Homo sapiens: one gene and its partners. The protein of the gene in region 2 purifies or fractionates together with the protein of the main gene of each other region. This does not show direct contact. Each region holds a gene or a part of one and is shown on either strand. Other genes may lie near its edges.

Region 1 (7,538 bases), on a different chromosome or scaffold from region 2:
ACCACCACTGACTCCCTAGTCCTTGCTATCCAGAATTCACTCCACTGCCTGATACCTTCTACCCTCACAGTGTGATCTCTGCTTATCAAGACCTCTTGGCCTATCAAAACCTCTTGGCCTATCAAGAACTCTTGGGCTATCAAGACCTCTTGGCCTATCAAGACCTCTCGGCCTATCAAGACCCCTCCTTGGATCCTGTAATCACAGGTCTGGCTCATGTGAACTACTACTGGTTTTCAGTTACATCTTCAACTATCAGCAACATCAACACTCAAAATTGCTTGCTGCTGGAGGTGACAAAAAATTTTAATTAGTAAACACGTAATGCAAACTAGAGCCAGCTGTCTCTCACCTAGTTCCAAACAATCATTTCTCGCTGCTACTCATTTTGGCCCTTCAAGACCTTATTATCTAATCAAACGGGACTACTGACCTCTTCTGAACATGCCCAATCACATCTTTGCTCAAAAAGTTCTTTCCATGTAGCACACTCTGGTCCTCAAACTTAAATTTTTCCACACCCCAAAGTAGTGCGTCCCCTATGAATTTTTCTGATTACCACATCTTGAGTGACTTCTTCCTCCAGATTTCCATGGCTTTCTGCTAAACATCTTTTACGGCACTTACTATTATTGCATTTTGTATTATGGTTCTGACTTTCTTCTACTTTAGATCTATATTGTCCAATATGGTAGCCAGTAGTCACATGTGGTAACGGAGCACTTGAAATGCGTTTTGTCTAACTTGACATTAATATGAAAATAGTATTAGTATGAAATGAGTAGAAAATGGGATGTAAAATATACATTGACTTTTATATTGATTACATATTGAAATAATTTTGATATATTGGGTTACATAAAATATATTATTTAAAATAATTTTACCTGTTTCATCTTACTTTTTAATGTGGTTACTAGAAAATCCAAAATTATGTATTTCTACTAGACAATGTTGCTTTAGACAGGGGCCACTGCACAAAGTTTAGCAGGCTGTTATCCGCACAGGGGCATTTATAAAAGGACAAGAAGGGCTAAAATCAAGGCCATCCTACACTCACCAAGCCATGCACTCTGGAGGGGGCTGTGTCTGCTCAGGGGCAAAAAATCTGTTGCTTCAAAGGCGCCATCTCTTCACCAAAGTGTGACCCCTGGGAGCTCTGTGTGTCCAGAGAGCATGCCTTTTTCTAATTTGCATAAAGGCATCATATAAGCTAGCGACAGCCCTGAGATGGGTGACGACGCCTTACTCATATTCTGCCTGCCACATACTAGTGGCAAAGCAACTGAACAAATTAATGAATGAGTACTCAACTCTACTTACCCTCTTATTTTATTTTTGAGACGGAGTCCTACTTACCCTATTTATTTTATTTTACTTTTGAGACAGAGTCTCGCTCTGTCAGCCAGTCTGGAGTGCAGTGGTGCAATCTCAGCTTATTGCAACCTCCACCTCCCAGGTTCAAGCAATTCTCCTGCCTCAGCCTCCCGAATAGCTGGGACTACAGGTGTGCGCCACCATGCCTGGCTATTTTTTTTTATTTTTAGTAGAGATGGGGTTTCACCATGTTGGCCAGGCTGGTCTTGAACTCCTGACCTCAAGTGATCTGCCCGCCTTGGCCTGCCAAAGTGCTGGGATTACAGGCGTGAGCCACCATGTCCGGCCTACTTACCCTCTTTAGACACATCTCTTCTTATCATGTGATGACATATAACACTTTATCTGGTTAGAGAATATAGTTCTCATTAGGGCTCACCACTAATCAAAATCACTGTTTAACTTCAAGATTCAAATTTTCATGTCTGTCTTCTAGCACCACATCAAAAATTAATAATCACTGCATATTTCTTTTATAGCTTTGTATTTCCAGATAAGCATTTGACCATTCCATAATACTATGAAAATACTTATTAATGTGTTTACATTTTTGAAAGATCAGTATAAAAATAAATAATGTAACACCCAAGAATCTCTAATTTTTTCCAACCTACCTGATTGCATTTCTCTTCTTGTCTTAGAACACTCGATTCTGGGAGATTTCACAATTTCAGAGGTGCCTGAGTCTAATGTCCTTTGTTTTTCTTCGAGAGAAGAGTCTGTAGTATGTTGAACAATGTTTTTTTTCTCTTTCTTATTTTTTTGTGTAAATTCTTTGCTATCCTTCTTCGGACTTATGTTTGAATCTATCTTAAATTTACATGAGGTTTTCATTTTTTTAATTCCTATAGAATTATCTAAATCAGTTTTATTTTCAGAACCCTTGTGATTAGCCTTCTTGGTTTCTTTCTTTTTCTCAACTAGATTTTTTGAATCGATTTCTTTTTTAGTCTGGGTTTTTTTCTTCTTTATTTTCTTTTGACTCAATGCTTTGCTATCTTCACCAGAGAGATTGGAATCAGAATCTGAAAGGTCGTAAAAACGCTTCAAATCCTCTGTAGTGCTATGGCTAATGGGGCGCCCTCTTTTATCCACGGCATAGTTCAACTTGAACTTCTTGTCATGAAACATGGCTCGAAATCTCTTGTCAATTTTGACTTTTCGATCCTTTTCTGGCATTTCCCAAAATCTCGGGTCCTTTGCAACCCGTCTAAACCGCTGGTCACTCATTATTTCTTGTTTGGATGACATTTTTAATTCTTAATCTCGACCAAATGCTTGAAGAAAACAAATACTGAAAAATAAAACAAATGTTTTAATGGTAATAATGGTTAGTACAATAATTAAATGTTTTAAAACACATTCACAATATATTCTAAGTTAATATATTCTAAGTTAAGTGTACATAAAATAGAGGTAACAAGTCTAATTTCATCTCTCCAACGTATTCTGGGTCACATGCAAAAAAGCAGAAACATACCAAAATATCCTCTTTCCATGACAGATCATTTAGAGAAATAAACTTAAGGTAGACAAAGCAGAATCCCAGGGCTTTATGGAGGGGAACAAATGTTTATTCATCCATTGCTCTCACTTAGAATTTCTATTTGTATACCAGTATGTGTTACTAATTGAAGGCAAATGTAGTTAAGATTCCCTAGGCCGAGTGCGGTGGCTCACCAGCACTTTCGGAGGCCAAGGCGGGCGGATCACTTGAGCCCAGGAGTTCAGGACCAGCCTGGGTAACATGGTGAATCCCCACAAGAAATACAAAAATGAGCCCGGCATGGTGGCGCGCGCCTGTAGTCCCAGCTACTTTGGAGGCTAAGGCAAGAGGATCACTTCCACCCGGGAGGTCTTGGCTAGAGTGAGCCTAACGGCACTACAGCACACCAGCTGGGGCAACAGAGTGAGACCCTGTCTACCAAAAAAAAGTAAGAAAGAAAGATTCCCTAGCCTCCGTTGGCCTCATTTGTTTCTTCACATTCTGGTCTCATTCTGCTTACTCCTTATCTCCGGCTACTGCCAACAAACAGCCTTTAGTTCTGTAAGACTAGCATTCTAACTAAACAGACCAAAATCAACTCAGGTTTAGCTAAGAAAGTTTCCTTTTTAAATTCGATCATCCTTCAAAAGTAATAAAAAGTTTAAAAATAAAAAGTAAATTTGAGTCTCCAGGTAAAGTCTCACACCAGTTAATAAATATCACTTCTTTCTATAATATCTGATTCTACCAGTGATGAAGGCCCAAGTGAGCTCATTCCCCCAAAACATACTAGAACATATACATATGTGTGTATAAATTAATATTGTTCCCTTGTGAAAAGTCTCCAATGGTTTAGCATCTCTGGATGGGAATTTTGCAAAGAGCCAAAAGTCGTTGATTATTAAGCAACCCCCCCCCAAAATGATTAAAAGGGCAATATTTCTTATTTAAAAATCAAGTCCTTTTAATTACACTAACTAGGAAAAAAAAGGAAGCTATCGCTGGTGCATTTACACATTTTTCGATGTATTACAGCACTTAACTCTCTGAGCAATCTTACGAGGTAGGTACCACCTCAACCAGGAGAAGTACTGCATGTATTGTAAATGTTTAGAAGGAAAGCACTCATTATATGTCAGATAATCCGAGAGAGGGGAAGGCGACCGGACCTCACTCCCGACACGCGCCCGCATCCCCGTAGCCCACCCTCCCCTTCTGCCCGCTCTCTAATTCGGAGAACACAGGGCTGGCCCCTGAACTAGGGTCTCCTTTCCACCTCCTGTACCGCAGGGGGGCAGCTAACAGACTGATTCGAGAAGCGACCCTGAAAAGGATCGATGAAGACTGAAGAATGAGACCGAAAAAGGCTCAGGAGGAAGGGGCAAAACCCCTCGCAGATCCGAAAGAGATCCTGTTAGAGACTAGTTTTTTCCCCGCGCCACACACACACACGCCCTCAAGCCCTTCATCTCGAGCTCTTCAACTCCAGTCCATCCCCACTCACCGTCCGCAGTCCTACCAAGCCTCACGTGGGGCTCACACCCACAATCCTCCGCGTGACGCTCCGCCGTAATGGCAAGCGAACTAGGCCAAACTACTTGCACGTTCCCTCGAGAAGATCTTTGGAGTAGACACAAAAGCCGCGCTGGCGCATGCGCACAAAAAGCGCCGGCAATTGGGGTCGCAGCTGGAGATGCTGCGGCCGGCAGGGCTCTGGCGCTTATGTCGGCGACCTTGGGCGGCGAGGGTCCCAGCGGAGAATCTTGGCCGTAGGGAAGTCACCTCTGGTGTCTCTCCCCGCGGTAGCACCTCGCCCAGAACCCTGAATATTTTCGACCGGGATTTGAAAAGGAAACAGAAGAACTGGGCAGCCCGGCAGCCCGAGCCGACCAAATTTGACTACCTGAAGGAGGAGGTGAGCCCGCGGGGCGGCGGGGCGGCGGGGCGGGCGACGCGGAGGCTTGTTTTCCTCTCCGCTAGTTCCGGCTAGGCCCCGAGCTCACCCCACCTAGCCGTCTGACCTTGACCAGCAGCCCTGCCTCTTTCGGCCTCTACTGTAATCACGCAAGGCCTGGCCTCGGATATTTGTAACATGCTTTCATTCATTCATGCATTCATTTCGGCAACGTCCTTGAGGCTGAAAGGACCTTATAGAGGCCTCCAGTGAAGCTCCGGAGAGGGAGAGAGTGGGAGAGAAGGTTAGGAGGACCCAAATCATCAGGGCCTTGCAGGATAGGGACTTGGGGTTTTCTTCTGTATCTGCACTGTCCAGCCAGTATGGTAACTGCCGGCCACACATGTGGCTGTTGAACACTTGAAAGGTGACTAGTCCAATTGAGATGTGTTGTAAAATACACACGAGTATAGTGACTTAGTATGAAAAAAGGATGTAAAATAGCTCATTAAGAGCTTTTATATTGATTACATGTTGCAGTGATTATTTTTGATATATTGGGTCACATGAAATATATTAAATATAAATTTAAATTTTTCAATTAAAATTTCTCTCGTTTTTACTTTTTTTCTTATGTGGCTACTAGAAAATTTGAAATTACATATGTGGCTCTCATGATTTTTGGTCAGCACTGCTCTAGGGGAATGTGAAGCTCTTGTTTTAATCAGTGGAGTGATCTGACTTATGTTTTAGGAAGATCAAATTAAGATTTCTGATTTGTCTTGGCTCGTTTGAGAAACCTTTCTCCCTGCCCAGGTGAGCCAGAGACTGAGGGTTTCTACTTTCAGGACACGCATTCTCAAGTTCAGGCCTCAGTAAATTTTTATTCAGGAGTGGAACAAAGTTGGAGTCAAGTATAATGCAACAAACAGTTATTGAACTCATAGCTTGAGCAGAGCTCTGTGCAAGTACAGGTCTGATCAGATGATTGACAGGGTGTCTTTCTCAGGAAGTCTTAGGCTGGTAATGTCTATTATAGGAAGTTTACTACCAATAAATTTTTTGTGTCTCACTTGTAAGGCATGGTGCACGTACTACACTGCTGATGTCGTGTACTTAGAAGATGTGCGCTCATAGCCCTTTCCCTCCAAAGAAAGCACCTGGACTACAACTTGATTGAGGCCTCGCCAATTTGTGAGACTAGAACAAATAAGATAAAGTATATGAGAGTTCTTTTTATAATAAACATAGGGTGTTCATATTAGGAATGACGTACAAGGTGGACTCCTGGGAAAAACATCTACGCTCCCTTCTCCCTTGCCCTTCTCTCAAAAAGCAGGTACATCTGTGTTTGGAACTTTTAAGTCCTAAGAGCAACTCTGGGGTGTTTATGAGGGAATGAGTGGAATGTGGGGAATACTAGACTCCCACGTCTTTATTGCTACCAGATGAAGCTAGGCCAGCAAAAGGTGGTGCTTACCTTATGACTCTTAAATTGGGATGGGATTGGAGCAGGGGAGGTGCACTTTCCTCAGATTTGGCTTTTTCTAACTTGCGAATGTCACTCAGAAAAGTTGTTCATTTATGAGTTCCACAAAATTTGTTAGTCATCAAATAATAGAGTTTTTCTTAAGTGACCACTTACATACTCATCTACAATAAACCCCAACTAACTAATTTTTCACTTTGTGTACCTCATGCTAATATCCGTGGACAGTAATGTGCCTGTTGTGTTCCTTTTGCTTTTCATCCTTGTGATCTTATGTCACATGGAATGTAAAGGCCACATATATATATGTGTGTGTGTGTGTGTGTATATGTATATTTTTAAGAATATTTAGTCTGGATTTCATGAAATTGACTTCTGAAATAATTTGCCTCAATTTTGTTTCCTGGTGGTTTGAGAAGAAAGTTCCTGTGGTGAAATTGAAAAGGGGATAAAGGGAAGTACTTATTTTAAAACATAAGTAACTTGTGGATTGTTGAATACTGGAAAAAGAGTGTTACTTCCCCGTTAACCTACGCCTCGTGTAATCCTTCAGGTTGGAAGTCGGATCGCAGACCGTGTATATGACATACCCAGGTAAGTGGTGGTGATCATAATACAATACCATCAACTTTTGAGTGGAAATTCAGGAGATTAAATGCTGAGAACTTGCTATCTGAAATGGCAGAACCTGGAAGAATTTACTCAGACTGGTGATTTAAATCACTCTGTAAGTCTCCTTTTTCTTGTCTGGAGAGCAAATGTTTTCTTCATTGTTGCCTGAAAAAAGAAAAGAATGTGTGGAAGCACAACTCGTATCTATCTCCAAGCCTGAATCCACTTGATTTGGCCAAAAGCAAGTAATAGAAAGATTGCTCCAAAAATGGAGATACTTAACAACATGCGAATTTTTAACATCCGAAGCCTCTGTACCTAACTGTGCCATATTGCCTGTGTTCATCATCAAGATATAGGGCATTAGGTAAATAAGGTTATCTACCACCAGGGATTCTCCAGCTATGTACTATAATTTTGACAAAGCTTTTTAAAAACAAATTGCAATGGGGCTCTTTTTGTTCCAGTTTTTCAGGAAGAATGTTCTTAGTAGATAAAATTTTAAGTTTTCTTATTATAGGTTTTTTTTTTTAAACCTATGGCCTACAATTAGATGTCTGTACCAATGTAGCATAACATAGTGTATTTAGAGGAGACAGCATGGCATGGAGGATAATAGTTCCAGCTCAGGATTCAGACTGACCGAATTCAAGTGTTGACTGCCCCTTGTTAGTTGAGGC
Region 2 (7,005 bases):
CAGTGGTTCTCAGCTGGGGACAGCTACCTGCCAGGGAACATCTGACAATGTGTGCAGACACGTGGGCAAGGGCTACTGGCACCTTGTGCACGAAGGCTGGGAAGGCTGCCAAAGACCACCCAACAGAGACTCATCCAGCCCATCCGGTGCTGCTGTGTCTAAAGGGCCTAACAAGCATTGTATATCACGTCTCCCTCAATGTGAATCTGGAAGCTTCACCTTCAGCGACAGCTCTGGAGATCACCGTGGCGCCAGGCTGTATCTGGGCCACGTTCTCTGTGATGAACTTTCACTGGCTAAGGTAACTATAAGTAATACAACAATCCAGAAACAGGGAATCTACAGAGCTGAAAGCAACCTCTCAAACCTTCAAAGCTTTTTTTTTTTTTTCTTTTTTTTGAGATGGAGTCTCGCTCTGTCACCAGGCTGGAGTGCAGCGGCACGATCTCAGCTCACTGCAACCTCTGCCTCCCGGATTCAAGCGATTCCACTGCCTCAGGCTCCCAAGTATCTGGAATTACAGGCATGCACCACCACGCCCGGCTAATTTTTTTTTTTGTATTTTATTAGAGACAAGGTTTCACCGTGTTGGCTAGGATGGTCTCGATCTCCTGACCTCGTGATCCACCTGCCTCAGCCTCCCAAAGTGCTGGGATTACAGGCGTGAGCCACTGTACTCGGCCAAAGCTTTTAGAGAATTAGGAAGGTGTAGTCTCTTGGACGAGAGACATTCTGTTCTAATGGAAACAGAACCCCTGGGCACGTCACCCTCAGACCGACCCCCTCAGGGCTGATTCCCACAGGGCTAGGGCTTTCTGGTGCTTTTCCTGTGAAAGCAAGGACCAAGCGAGGTCTCCGCAGAGTTCCCAGGTTCCGCAGCCTCCTGGAGGCCACACCCTCACTGGCTCCCAGCTGGATGCTCCGACTCGCCAACTCCCAGGGCTCTGGCTTGGTCTCCCTGAATCCAGGCTGCCCCATGGCTATGAAACAGGGTACCTGCAGAGGGCCGTCATGGGAACCCAATGTCTTCCCTCCGGCTCCCAGGGCAGACCCCTCCCCCTCCCGCCTCCACTCACGCTTTTTTTGCTTTTTTCTGCTCAGACTTCTCCTTGGGAGCTGCCTGCACCTCTGGCTGCCGGATGGCCTGGTTCTTGCTGAGGAACAGCACATGCTGGGCCTCTTGCTGCATGCGGTGGATATAGGCCCCGTCAGACTCCCCCTTCCTCTGTTTGAACTTGGGGACTGCGATGTCGGGCTCCTCTCCCTTTGCTTCCTTCTCCAATGTCTTTCTGAAGGTCACCTGGGCTGAGGACAAAGGGAGGCCTCAGAGGAGGCAGGAGGCAGACAGTGGCAGGCAGGTGACCCATGCTCATTTCCCCTCCCAAAGCCACAGGAAGGGAAGACCAGGCTGGCTGGAAGCACCCCAACGACAGCAGCTGAAGAGGATGTAGAATGCCCGGCCCGGCATCCCCGGGGACGTGACCCCCCAGCCCAATGGCACCTGTCACAGATGTCCACTGCAGCACAGCTGAAAAAGGAAAGCAGAAACAACCTAATGTCCACCCCTAGGTGGCTGGTTGAATGAATTCTCCTCTGATCACCCACAGACTCCATTGCACAGCTGCCGAAAGAAGCCCAGTGGAGCTACACAGAGAAACGTGGGCAGACCTGCCGGGCGCGGTGGCTCATGCCTGTAATCCCAGCACTTTGGGAGGCCAAGATGGGCAGATCACAAGGTCAGGAGATTCAGACCATCCTGGCTAACACGGTGAAACCCTGTCTCTACTAAAAACACAGAAAAAATTAACTGGGCATGGTGGTGGGCGCCTGTAGTCCCAACTACTCGGGAGGCTGAGGCAGGAGAATGGCGTGAACCCGGGAGGCGGAGCTTGCAGTGAGCCGAGATTGCGCCACTGCACTCCAGCCTGGGCGACTGAGCGAGACTCCATCTCAAAAAAGAAACGTGGGCAGACCTATGACATCCACTGAGAACGCAAGCGCAGGACCCCGGGCGAGTGTAGAACACAGGAGGCGGACAGTGCCAGGCAGGTGGTTGTGTTCATAAATATGTGAAGACATGCATATTGCCAGGCATGGTGGTTCACACCTGTAATCCCAGCACTTTGGGAGGCTGAGGTGGGCGGATCACCTGAGGCCAGAGTTCGAAACCAGACTGGCCAACATGGCAAAACCCAGCCTTTACTAAAAATACAAAAACGAGCCGGGCATGGTGGCACAGGCCTGTAATCCCAGCTACTGGGGGGGCTGAGGCACAAGACTTGCTTGAACCTGGAAGGTGGAGGTTGCAGTGAGCCGATATTCTGTCTCCAAAAAAAAAAAGGCCAGGCACAGTGGCTCACACCTGTAATCCCAGCACTTTGGGAGGCTGAGGTGGGGAAATCACTTGAGGTCAGGAGTTCAAAACCAGCCTGGCCAACATGGTGAAACCTCGTCTCTACTAACAATACAAAAATTAGCTGGGCTTGGTGGCGTGTGCCTGTAATCTCAGCTACTCGGGAGGCTGAGGCAGGAGAATTGCTTGCACTGGAACTGGGACAGGGGAGGCAGAGGTAGCAGTGAGCTGAGATTGTGCCACTGCACTCTAGCCTGGGCTAGAGGGAGACTGTCTCAAAAAAAAAAAAAAAAACCACACACAAAAAATTAGCTGGGTATGGTGGTGCGTTACCTGTAATCCCAGCTACTCAGGCGGCTGAGGCAGGAGAACTGCTTAAACCCAGGAGGTGGAGGTTGCAGTGAGCCCAGATCACGCCACTGCACTCCAGCCTGGGCGAGGAAGCAAGACTCCATCTCAATAAATAAATAAATAAACAAACAAACAAAGGTGCCAATTCAATGCAGCACGGTTCAGAACGTGCCATGTGCTACCCAGGCCAGTGCGCCTCCTCCCTGCACCTTCCTCACCTCTATCTCACTATCCCTTTGGCAGCCATATAACCCCCAACAAGAAGCCTACAGTTTATACACAAATTATAAAACAGCTTTGCTGTAAAACCAGTGCCACGTTTGGGAAGAGAAATGTGTCTATAAGCAAAATATACACACAGTGGACTCCGTTTCCCAACATGCCCAGAGTGTTACCTCTGGGTTGCAGCGGTGGACATGTGGACACCCTACCCAGACTTGGGGGAGGAAGGCAAGACTTCTCAGAGGGGCCTGATGGAATTTCCTCCTTCAGCTCCTGACTCCACCCACTTCTCTCTACCATTGCTTCAGCACTCTTGTCCCAAGAATCATGGCTTCTCCCTGGCAGTAGCCCCGCCAGTTGCCAGGTCCACTCTCCCTCACTCCATCATCGCTCGGTGACCCTTTTTTTGCTTAGAGTAAACATGAATTGGCCGTGCCCTGCTAAAAACTCTGATGAATCTTCGCTACTTTTGGGGAGAAAAAAACGCCGCTCCTTAGCATGGATCCTGAGGCCCCATAACGGGTCCTCCCCGCCCACCCCACAGCCTCCTTCCAAGCCTCGTCTGGAACCACAGCGCCACCAGCTGCCAGCCACTGCTTTAGCTTTGGCCACGCTCCCCCACCTTCTGAGCACCGGGTCTTGGCATATTTCCTCTGCCTGAAACGTTCTGAAGTATTTGGGCGATTGGGCGGGTTGAGACACACAAAGCTTCACTGCCGCCCAGTATGGGCCTGCACACACCTGCTTTCTTCCTCTTCTTGTTACTGATCGGGTTTTTCATCTCTTGGCGGCTCCTCATAATCTCCCGGAGCCGGAAAGGAATCTCCTGTTCGTCCTGGTTCTTGGGCTTGCAGTTCACTTTCTTCTTCTCTTTGCTGGGAGAAAGAACACGGGGGTGAGACCCGTCCCAAGTAAAGCACAAGCAGAATCAGTAAGAGAAACAATAGTTGGGTCTGGCAATAGAATCTACACGGGCTGGCCGGGCTTGGTGGCTCACGCCTGTAATCCCTGCACTTTGGGAGGCCGAGATGGGCGGATCACGAGGTCAGGAGATCGAGACCATCCTGACTAACACAGTGAAACCCCGTCTCTACTAAAAATACAAAAAATTTGCCGGGCGTGGTGGCGGGCGCCTGTAGTCCCAGCTACTCGGGAGGCTGAGGCAGGAGAATGGCGTGAACCCGGGAGGCGGAGCTTGCAGTGAGCCGAGATCGCGCCACTGCACTCCACACTCCAGCCTGGGCGACAGAGTGAGACTCCGTCTCAAAAAAAAAAAAAAAAAAAGAATCTATCTATACAGGGGCCACATCTGGCTTCTGTGGTGCGAGCCGGTCCAGCAGTCCAGGGAGCAGGGATCTTTCCTCTCGGTCTCACTCAGTGGCTGTCCCTGAACCCCTTCCTCACGGGACGCGAGGCCGAAAGGCACTCCGAAAGCCCAGGAGGCCTTTCCGCCCTGACCTCGTCCAGAACCACAAAGACGGGACACTGGGACGCGGGAAAGGCAAAACCAAGGACTCGCTCGCGCCTCCATTCATTCAACCGATCCTGGCGGAGCGTGGGCCGCGGGCACAGACAGAGGAGGGCACTGAGCCCGACCTGGGGAAGGGGTCCGAGCGAACGCTCCCTAGGGGGTCCCGGGCGGAGCCTTCAAGGCGTCCCCTTCTCTGGGGAAGTGTGGCGGCCTCGCGGGGCAGCGCAGTCACCTGCGAAGCCCGGGCCACGGGGCTGGGCGCTGCTTCCCCAGCGGCTGCACTTGCTGCCGCCCCCGCGCTCGCCGGGGACTCCCAGGACCCGCCTGCACCCTGGACACCGCTGCTCCGCGACCAGCTCCCGCCATCTCCACGCCGGGAGGCTCCCTAGCGAAGCCACTTCCGCCTTCCTGCATGGTTCCGCCCCACCGATCGGCACTTCCGCTTCCTGCGCTCAGCCTCACGCTGGCTGGAGCGGCGCGACTTCCTGAAGGTCCGGGATTGGCCGGAGCGCCCGCCGCTCACGGTCAGGGGTTGCCGGATCCCGTCCGCGGGCGATGCTGCTGCGGAGGGTGGTCGAGGGAGGCCGGGCGGTAGCCGCCGCGGTCCGTGGCTCGGCAAGTACCAGGACGGGTCTTGGCAGCGCCGAAGGGCACGTCCGAGAGGCCGCTGTCCGGGGGCCCGCACGTACCGGGAGGAGCCCCGGCCCCTCCACCCGCATGTGGGGACGGAGCCGGGAGGATCGCGCGCTGGCCGCCGCCGAAGGACCCCTCGCTCCTCTCCTCCATCGGCTCTTACCGAGTCCCCGCCCCGGAATCTGTGGAGGGGCCGCTTAGCCTTGGGAGAGGAAGCAGCCCGGTGAACGGCCACTTTCCTGTTTCTCAGTATCTGCCGAGCGCCTGTGTGCGAGCCCTCCTGGGCTCTGGGGACTGGCCGTGGACATGGAGCGGATGATGCCCCTCGCAGGACTAGTTAAATAAGTGAAGTTGGTAGCGTGTCAGTCCGTGATCCTGGGTAGATAGAGCAGGGCAGCGACGGAAGACTGCCTATAGGACATTCACGCTGGGATGAGAGGGGCCTGAGAGGCCTGGGCTTTGTGACAGGGAAACTTGGATAAAGGGTGGTGCGATTCTTCCGGTTGGTCCCTCAGAGGTGGTGGGGCTTGGTTATACTGGTAGAGGTGCTGGGCTGGCCAGGAGCTTACAGGGTTACACCTCTCGCATACTGGTGTCCACAGAGCAGCCATCTTAGCTGGAGGTGTCGAGTGCCTCCCCCACCCCCCACCATGTGCTTGAGTGCACACCCGGCGCCAGGCCCTGATCCTGGCACTTCTTGTGAATCACACCGTGTCATACCCATGACTTCCATTGCACAGTGGGGAAACTGAGTCTAGAGAGGTGAAATAACATGTCTAAAGTCACAGGAAGTGAAAAAGCTGAGGACATGGAGCCAGTTGCCCAATGACAGGAGAGCTGAAATGTCCTCACTGCTGGGGGTAGACCGGGCCTCACCAGCTTCCTGGAGAGTCACATGTTTGTCTGCATCCTCAGGGGGCTCGCCGGTTCTCCAGCCCGGACTGCTGCCAGAGGCTTCCTGGAGGTGGCAGCTTTCTTCAAAGGCACCATCCCGGAGCGCAAGCCCCTGATGGGCGCAGAAAATTCGGGACAGACCACGTAGAGGTGGGCTCCCAAGCAGGTGCGGACGGCACCAGGCCGCCCAAGGCATCGCTGCCACCTGAGCTCCAGCCGCCCACAAACTGCTGCATGAGTGGCTGCCCCAACTGCGTGTGGGTGGAGTACGCGGACAGGCTGCTGCAGCACTTCCAGGACGGTGGGGAGCGGGCCCTGGCTGCCCTGGAGGAGCACGTGGCTGATGAGAACCTCAAGGCCTTCCTCAGGATGGAGATCCGGCTGCACACCAGGTGCGGAGGCTGAGCCATCCCTGCTGGACTCCCTACCGCAGGACGGAGTCCAGGACGCAGCCGCAGCCTCCTTCCTTCACACCCCCTCACAGACTCCTTGTGTCCAACGGGAATAGGAAGAATTAGTTACTGACTTCACCTGAGAAAAAAATAAATTCTCTATGGTGGTTTCACAGGAGGTTTTTGTTTTGGGGGTGGTTTTTTTGGCAGTATGTCTGCCAACCAGAATGGCTGCTGATTTGGCCTCAACAGGAGGCTTTTGTGTGGTTGTCCGTAAGGCTTGTGTTGCATCTTCAAAGCGAGCAGGTCCAGGTCGGCATTATGCACCTCCGGAGCTCTTGCAGCCATCACCCTGCCATGAGGGTAAAATAAGACCCCCAGCCGAGTGTGGTGAAAATAAGACCCCCAGCCGGGTGTGGTGGCTCACACCTGTAATCCCAGCACTTTGGGAGGCTGAGGCGGGCAGATCATGAGGTCAGGAGATGGAGACCAGCCTGACCAACATGGTGAAATCCCATCTTTACTAAAAATACAAAAATTAGCCAGGTGTGGTGGCAGGCGCCTGTAATCCCAGCTACTCAGGAAGCTGAGGAACCCAGGAGGCAGAGGTTGCAGTGAGCTGAGGTCATGCCACTGCACTCCAGCCTAGGTGACGAGAGTGAAACTCTGACTCAATAAATAGGACCCCT
Region 3 (7,321 bases), on a different chromosome or scaffold from region 2:
AGAGATGAACATATAATTCTTTTTCTTTTTTTGAGACGGAGTCTTGCTCTTGTCACCCAGACTGGAGTGCAGTGGCGTGATCTCAGCTCACTGCAACCTCCGCCTCCCGGGTTCAAGCGATTCTCCTGCCTCAGCCTCCTGAGTAGCTGGGATTACGGGTGCCGGACGCCATGCCCAACTAATTTTTGTATTTTTAGTAGAGACGGAGTTTTGTCATGTTGGCCCAGGCTGGTCTCGAACTCCTGACCTCAGGTGATCCGCCTGTCTTGGCCTCCCAAAGTGCTGGGATTACAGGCGTGAACCACCGCGCCTGGCCAAGCATAGAATTGTTTAAGTTTCAAAGTGCTTAAAAAATAAATGCAAACTCATTCATCTTAAACTTGAAAACCCCTAAACCATATGCTACCGTAATCAACTCTACTTCTGATTTACAAGATTTTGCCTTGAAAGAAAATGTAATACTGAGAACTTGATTTTGTTATTGTTGTCATTAAGGACTGAGAAATGGCATTAGTGATATTTTGGAATCATTAACTTTAACACACTTCCTCGTTCTGACCTAGATTGGAGAGGGAGGTGACTTCAATTAAATGGATCCTCTTTTTATGTATATATGGTGTATTAGTCAGGGTTCTCTAGAGGGACAGAACTAATAGGATGGAGATATAGATATATATAATGTATATACATATATATGTTTATTAAGTACTAACTTACATAATCACAAGGTCCCACAATAGACTGTCCGCAAGCTGAGGAGCAAGGAGAGCCAGTCTGAGTCCCAAAACTGAAGAACTTGGAGTCTGATGTTCGAGGGCAGGAAGCACCCAGCACAGGAGAAAGATGTAGGCTGGGAGGTATAGTAATGAAGAGCATTAGCAGTCTATTTTACTTTACCTTAATATTCAACCTGCAGATATTCAATATGCAAAAAGATCACATTTCTAACCATCATTAGGTAATGAGCTATGTTTCTCCTTGTTTTGATGATCCGCAAAAGCCTTAAGAAAACAGAATTAGCTGCCGGGCACGGTGGCTCATGCCTGTAATCCCAGCACTTTCAGAGACCGAGGTGGGCGGATCACCTGGGGTCGGGAGTTCAAGACCAGCCTGACTAACATGGAGAAACCCCATCTGTACTAAAAATACAAAATTAGCTGGGCATGGTGGCACATGCCTGTAATCCCAGCTACTCAGGAGACAAGCAGGAGAATTGCTTGAACCCGGGAGACGTGAGAAAGAGGCAGGAGAATCGCTTGAACCCAGGAGATCACGCCATTGCACTCCAGCCTGGGCAACAAGAGTGAAACTCCATCTCAAAAAAAAAAAAAAGAAAAAAGAGAAAAGAGAATTGGCCAGGTGTGGTGGCTTAGGCCGGTATTCCCACCGCTTTGGGAGGCTGAGGTGGCTGGATCACTTGAGGTCAGGAGTTCCAGAGTCCCAGACCAGCCTGGCCAACATGATGAAACCCCATCTCTACTAAAAATACAAAAATTAGCTGAGCGTGGTGGCACGCACCTGTAATCCCAGCTACTCGGGAGGCTGAGGCAGAAGAATCACTTGAATCTGGGAGGTGGAGGTTGCAGTGAGCCGAGATCGTGCCACTGCACTCCAGCCTGGGTGATAGAGTGAGACTCTGTCTCAAAAATAAATACATAAAAATAAAAATAAAAATGCAAAAATTAGCTGGGCACGGTGGTGTGCACTTGTAATCTCAGCTACTGTGGAGGCTGAAGCAGGAGGATTGCTTGAACCAGGAGGCAGAGGCTGCAGTGAACCCAGATCAGGCCACTGCACTCCAGCCTGGGTGACAGAGCAAGACTGCCTCAAAAAAAAAAAAGAAAACATAATAGAATCACTGCCAGTGAGGGGCTAAAAACATTACATGAATTTTCTGAAGACAGAAGATACTATTGTTAATTTAAAAGTTGTGATGTTCTATGAACAATTCAAATATACCGCATGTCCAGATTCATGTGCAGATTTGATCTTCAGTGTTACTAAGCTGCTTTCAGAATCTCTGCTCCAGTTATTTCCTTGAATTCGTGTGTTCTCACAGATTGCAACTGAGCTTTTTGTTAATTTGCTTTATTTACTGGCACATCTAATATCTGAATCAGCTTTATCAGGTATTTTACTACCCAGATTTCTTCCCACCTGCACAATTAATCCCTTTCGTAAGGGATTAATTCATCAACATTCAACAAGCCCTTTTATTTCTTCTAAATTTTTTTTTTCCAGCCACAGCAAAACAAAACAAACAAAACCCAAGTCCTTTTCTGAATTTAGTGCAGGGCACAGTGAGAAGTTCAAAATAATGTACAATTTAAGATACTCAGGGAGATAAATATACACACAGCACTGGAAAGTTACAAAATAACATAAGGCAGGCAAGAAGTGATAATATTCAGGAGAATTTAGAGTAGTTAGGTAACATGAGTGGTTAGCATTGATGTAGGCTATAGGGTCTCCTAATTCTAACATTTTAACCTTATTAAATTAGACAATAGATTACATTAGACTACAGTTAGCTTGAAACAGAATTGCAGAGTTGGACTCCAGGATATTGAGAAACTACTCTAGGTACACACTTGTTTGTCTCTACTTAAACCTTTGCTTTTTAATAAAACACCAAAGCAAACTAAAAACAACAACAAAAAACCAGAGGAACGTCTCCTGTTTTGAGAACTGGAAAAGCAAAGGGGACTTTTTCTTTTTTTTGAGACATCGTATTGCAAGACACCAATAGAGGCACTTTTTTTTTTTTTCAGGCGGAGTCTCCCTCTGTTGCCCAGGCTGCAGTGCAGTGGTGTGACCTCAGCTCACTGTGAGCTCTGCCTCCTGGGTTCAAGCGATTCTCTTGTCTCAGCCTCCCCAGTAGCTGGGACTACAGATGCACGCCACCACGCCCGGCTAATTTGTGTATTTTTAGTAGAGACGGGGTTTCACCATATTGGTCAGGCTGGTCTCGAACTCCTGACCTCAGGTGATCCATCCGCCTCAGCCTCCCAAAGTGCTGGGATTACAGGTGTGAGCCACTGCGCCTGGCCCAATAGAGGCACGTTTGTCAAGCTATTGTGAGTAACTTTCAGAATGTTTTTGTTCTCAAGATACGGGATCATGGTGGGGGAGGCATGCTGTGTATTGGAGTGCAGACATGGTGTGTGTTGGGTTGCACACTGTGTATTGGGGTGCACACTGTATTGGGGTGTAGATGTGTGGGGGCGCACACTCTATTGAGGTGCACATTGCATTGGAATGCAGACAGTGTTTGCTGGGATGCACATGTGCTGTGTTGGGGTGCACACTGTACTGGGGTGCAGACATGGTGTGTGTTAGAGTGCACAGTGTATTAGGGGTGCACACTGTATTGGGGTGTACACTGTACTGGGGTGCAGACATGGTGTGTGCTGGGGTGCACACTGTATTGGAGTGCACACTGTATTGGGATGCTGATGTGGTGTGTGCTAGGGTGCATACTGTGTATTGGGGTGCAGACTGTATGCTGGGTTGCACACTGTGTATCGGGGTGCACTGTGTTGGGATGCTGATGGTGTGCTGCAGTGCACACTATTGGGGTGCAGATGTGTGTGCTGGGGTGCACACTGTATTGGGGTGCACACTGTATTGGGATGCTGATGTGTGTGCTGGGGTGCATACTGTGTATTGGGGTGCACACTTCTTGGGGTGCAGACTGTGTGTTGGGTTGCACATTGTGTATCGGGGTGCACTGTGTTGGGATGCTAACGGTGTGCTGCAGTGCACACTGTATTGGGGCGCAGATGTGTGTTTGGGGTGCACACTGTATTGGGGTGCACACTGTATTGGGGTGCTGACGTGTGTTCTGGGGTGGACACTGTGTATTAGCGTGCTGACGTGGGCTGTGCTGGGATGCACACGTGCTTCGCTAACAGGCCAGGGCCCGGCAACAGAAGCTTGCACTGTAAACGCTCCTCCCGCGCGGCGGACACAGCTCCAGGCTGGTACCGCGCGCACACGGACGCCTCGCAGGACCTGGGCTAATAAGGAGAGGAGATCGGCACGGTACCGCCTCTTCCCACGGCCTCCCGGCGCGGCACCGCCCTCCTCCCTCCACCCCGGGCCTTCCCCGCCCCAACCTCTTCGGGCCCTGGTTCTCCACCCTTGCCGCGGGCGACTCGAGCCAGGCCAAAGGGAGGCGCTACCTGAGGACTGCTTCCGGGAGTGGGCGTGGCCCCAAGGGCGTGGGCGGGGCGGGGCGGGGCCGTGCTGCTCTTGAGCGACCGGCAGCGTACCCGGCGTGGCTCCCGTCTCCGCCCAGTCGTAGGCGCTGGCCGCTGACATGTTGAGGACTACGCGCGGCCCAGGCCTGGGCCCCCCGCTGCTCCAGGCCGCGCTGGGCCTTGGGCGGGCTGGGTGGCACTGGCCTGCGGGCCGGGCGGCGAGCGGGGGGCGCGGGCGGGCCTGGCTGCAGCCCACGGGCCGGGAGACGGGTGTGCAGGTGTACAACAGCCTCACCGGGAGGAAGGAACCCCTAATCGTGGCGCACGCCGAAGCCGCCTCCTGGTGGGCCGCGCGGGACTGGGGCACGGGCGGGGGCCGATCGTGGCGGAGACTTCCCACGGCTGAACGGGATCTGGGCTCGGGGAGGGCGTTTAGGAAGCTGCATGGAGGGCGCCGTTCTAGAAGCTGGGGGTGCGCGGTGCTTTTGCAGGTTTGGGTGTGAATTGAGCAAGTATGAAAACCCCGGCTATTCATCCCCCAGAAGTGATTACTTTAAAAATTATATGATCATTATAACTCAGAATCGAATGTCCTTTCTTGCAAATATGTTCCACACGATGGATTTTAACTTTGTTTCCAGGTATAGCTGTGGACCAACTGTATATGATCATGCGCACCTTGGCCATGCTTGGTGAGTTTCCTGGATTTGAATTTTCATACTTCAAAGGACCATTTATTTTTGAAAGCCTTTTGCTGATTTCTTTTATCTCTTAAGTGGCAACTTAGGGATGCAGAATAATTCCTACATTCCAGGCATTGTGGGAAATGTTACAACCTCATTTGGTTCTTATAGGGATTCTGAGCACTTACACCCGTTTTACAGGTGAGGAAACTCAGGGAGACAATGGAGCACTGAAAAATGACCCGTTTTGGAACTAGATGTTTTTTGCTGGGTTTAGTGACATCAAGAGGCCTTTGCGGGGTCCCGGGGTCCTGCTGATCAGTCATTCCTGGGCCCCACCACTTCTTAGCTTCACAGCACTGAGCAGGTCACTTTATTGCTTTGAGTCCTGGTTTCTTCATCTTTGAGATGGGAATGATAACTTGGATCTTATAACAATTTTAGTAAATAATGCCCATAAAATGCTGCTTAACACTGTACCTCACATGTGAGATGTCACGGGGCTCAATAGTGATTGAGTAACTTTCCTAAGATGACACATTGAAGAGGTATTGGAACTGGGGTGAGGCTTGGTTTCTCTGACTGCGAAGTGGTTGCTCTCTTGACCTCTTTAACTGTAAGATGTACTGCCTCCTACATTTGCCAAAATTACCACTTTTCCTAATATTTTGTACATTTCCAAAATATAATGTACAAAAATGACATATTATAGATTTTTTAAAACTTAGTATTGTTCAGTCCTAGACTAAAAGTAAAAAGTTACATTTACTCTGTATACTTTTTTTTTTTCTTGAGACGGAGTCGCTCTGTCGCCCAGGCTGGAGTGCAGTGGTGCAATCTCGGCTCACTGCAACCTCTGCCTCCCAGGTCCAGTTGCCGCCTCCTGGCAGCAATTCTCCTGCCTCAGCCTCCGGAGTAGCTGGGATTACAGGCATGTACCACCACGCCCGGCTAATTTTTGTATTTTTAGTAGAGACGGAGTTTCACCATGTCAGCCAGGCTGGTCTCGAACTCCTGACCTCAAATGATCCACCTGCCTTGGCCTCCCAAAGTGTTGGGATTACAGGCATGAACCACCATGCCCGGCATACTCTGTATACTTTAAATATACATTTTTCCCCTTTACTTTGGGCTAACATACTTTTAATTATCAAAAGCATATTTCGACATCTTTCTTGAATTATAAAATATGTTGGGGAAATATTAAAAACAAAACCCCCACCCTGGAAAACCTTTCCACAAAGGTAGAAGAGAAAGAAAACAGTTCTGTTACTGAATAAGCCTTAAACCAGAAGGGGATGAGCTAAAATAACTGCAAAGACAGAAAGAAATCTCATCCTTCTATGGAGCTTTGGGGATACAGCCTGTCTCAGTCTATGAGTCTGCTGTAACAAAATATCCTAAAATGGATGACTTATAAACAACAGAAATTTCTTTCTTTCTGGGGCTAGGAAGTCCAAGATGAAGGCACCAGCAAATTTGGTGTCTGTTGAGGGTCTGCCTGCTGTGTCCTCACATGGTAGAAGGTAGAGGGAATTCTCTGAGGTCTCTTCTATGAGGGCATTAACCCCAGTCATGAGCTCTCTGCCTCCATGACTTTGTCACTCCCAGAGGCTCCACCTCCTAAAACCGTCACCTTGGGAGTTAGGGTTTCAACCATGAATTTGGAGGGAAGACAAACATTCAGACCATAGCATAACCCATTGCTTCAGGTGAGTTACAGTGTGGAGTCAGATGACAAGGTAGGCCCATCTCCTCCCAGGACACTGGGAAACGGGGCGTTATTTTCCTTGATTACATTTCAGAGGTGGGTCCCAGGTTTTGAAATTTTCTTGAGTTGTAAAACTGCCAAGAGGTTTATTTAGCCATTTAAAAGATTGACATGCATTTGAAGAGGACTGAGGAAGAAATCCTAAAAGTTGTTGGGGAGAGAATCTCTTCTCATTTCCAACTAGGAGAGTCAAGTCTTGCAGTTTAAATTTGTATAATATTTACCTTTATGACTACAGAAAAGAATACACATCTTAAGTGCGCAGCTGAATGCATGTTATAAGCTGTGTCCACACAGGGCCTTCCCAGGGGCTGGTGGGAGCTTGGGACTCTCCTGTTGACCACCTTCCTGTCAGCCTGGCCAACCCCTCCAGGCCTTTGCTGGGCTGGCCTGCCCCACCTCCCTCTCCCCATCTCAGCTCTCCTAGCATTGTACTCCTTCAGTGGTTATTTATGCAACCATCTGATGTCGTTAGCATGATGTAATTATTTCAGCTCCAGCAGGACAGGGATGCACACAGTGCCTGCTGCAGAAAGGTAGAATTTGAGCAATGGGTAGCACTCAGTTCACTGGAAAGAGACACCCTGAAAAATAGCCTCCACCATTTCCAGAAGAGGTCAGAGGGATGGAAACCCTGTTTGGGGAAAACAAATAGATCAGTTTGG

What was found. Proteins that work in one complex are often made in the same cells at the same time.
Region 1: the proteins of OXLD1 (region 2) and NDUFAF5 purify together in Homo sapiens (affinity purification with mass spectrometry; 3 studies listed by BioGRID and IntAct, with this or other methods). This does not show direct contact.
Region 3: the proteins of OXLD1 (region 2) and CARS2 purify together in Homo sapiens (affinity purification with mass spectrometry; 3 studies listed by BioGRID and IntAct, with this or other methods). This does not show direct contact.

What each region holds. Positions count from the first base shown.
Region 1 is NC_000020.11:13,780,513-13,788,050, forward strand, and holds the start of NDUFAF5 (arginine-hydroxylase NDUFAF5, mitochondrial), read left to right. Parts: upstream 1-4,515; 5' UTR 4,516-4,556; coding exon 4,557-4,778; intron 4,779-5,837; exon of another isoform or gene 5,838-6,799; coding exon 6,800-6,840; intron 6,841-7,538. Other genes in the region: ESF1 homolog, read right to left, coding at 1,992-2,628. UniProt on the Homo sapiens protein: Arginine hydroxylase that mediates hydroxylation of 'Arg-111' of NDUFS7 and is involved in the assembly of mitochondrial NADH:ubiquinone oxidoreductase complex (complex I, MT-ND1) at early stages. May also have methyltransferase activity.
Region 2 is NC_000017.11:81,664,525-81,671,529, reverse strand, and holds OXLD1 (oxidoreductase-like domain-containing protein 1), read left to right. Parts: upstream 1-4,924; 5' UTR 4,925-4,952; coding exon 4,953-5,012; coding exon of another isoform or gene 5,013-5,231; exon of another isoform or gene 5,232-5,336; coding exon of another isoform or gene 5,337-5,366; exon of another isoform or gene 5,367-5,945; coding exon 5,946-6,329; 3' UTR 6,330-6,494; downstream 6,495-7,005. Other genes in the region: CCDC137 (coiled-coil domain-containing protein 137), read right to left, coding at 1,077-1,305, 3,668-3,801, 4,630-4,763.
Region 3 is NC_000013.11:110,703,094-110,710,414, reverse strand, and holds the start of CARS2 (probable cysteine--tRNA ligase, mitochondrial), read left to right. Parts: upstream 1-4,298; 5' UTR 4,299-4,321; coding exon 4,322-4,545; intron 4,546-4,843; coding exon 4,844-4,894; intron 4,895-7,321. UniProt on the Homo sapiens protein: Mitochondrial cysteine-specific aminoacyl-tRNA synthetase that catalyzes the ATP-dependent ligation of cysteine to tRNA(Cys). In addition to its role as an aminoacyl-tRNA synthetase, has also cysteine persulfide synthase activity.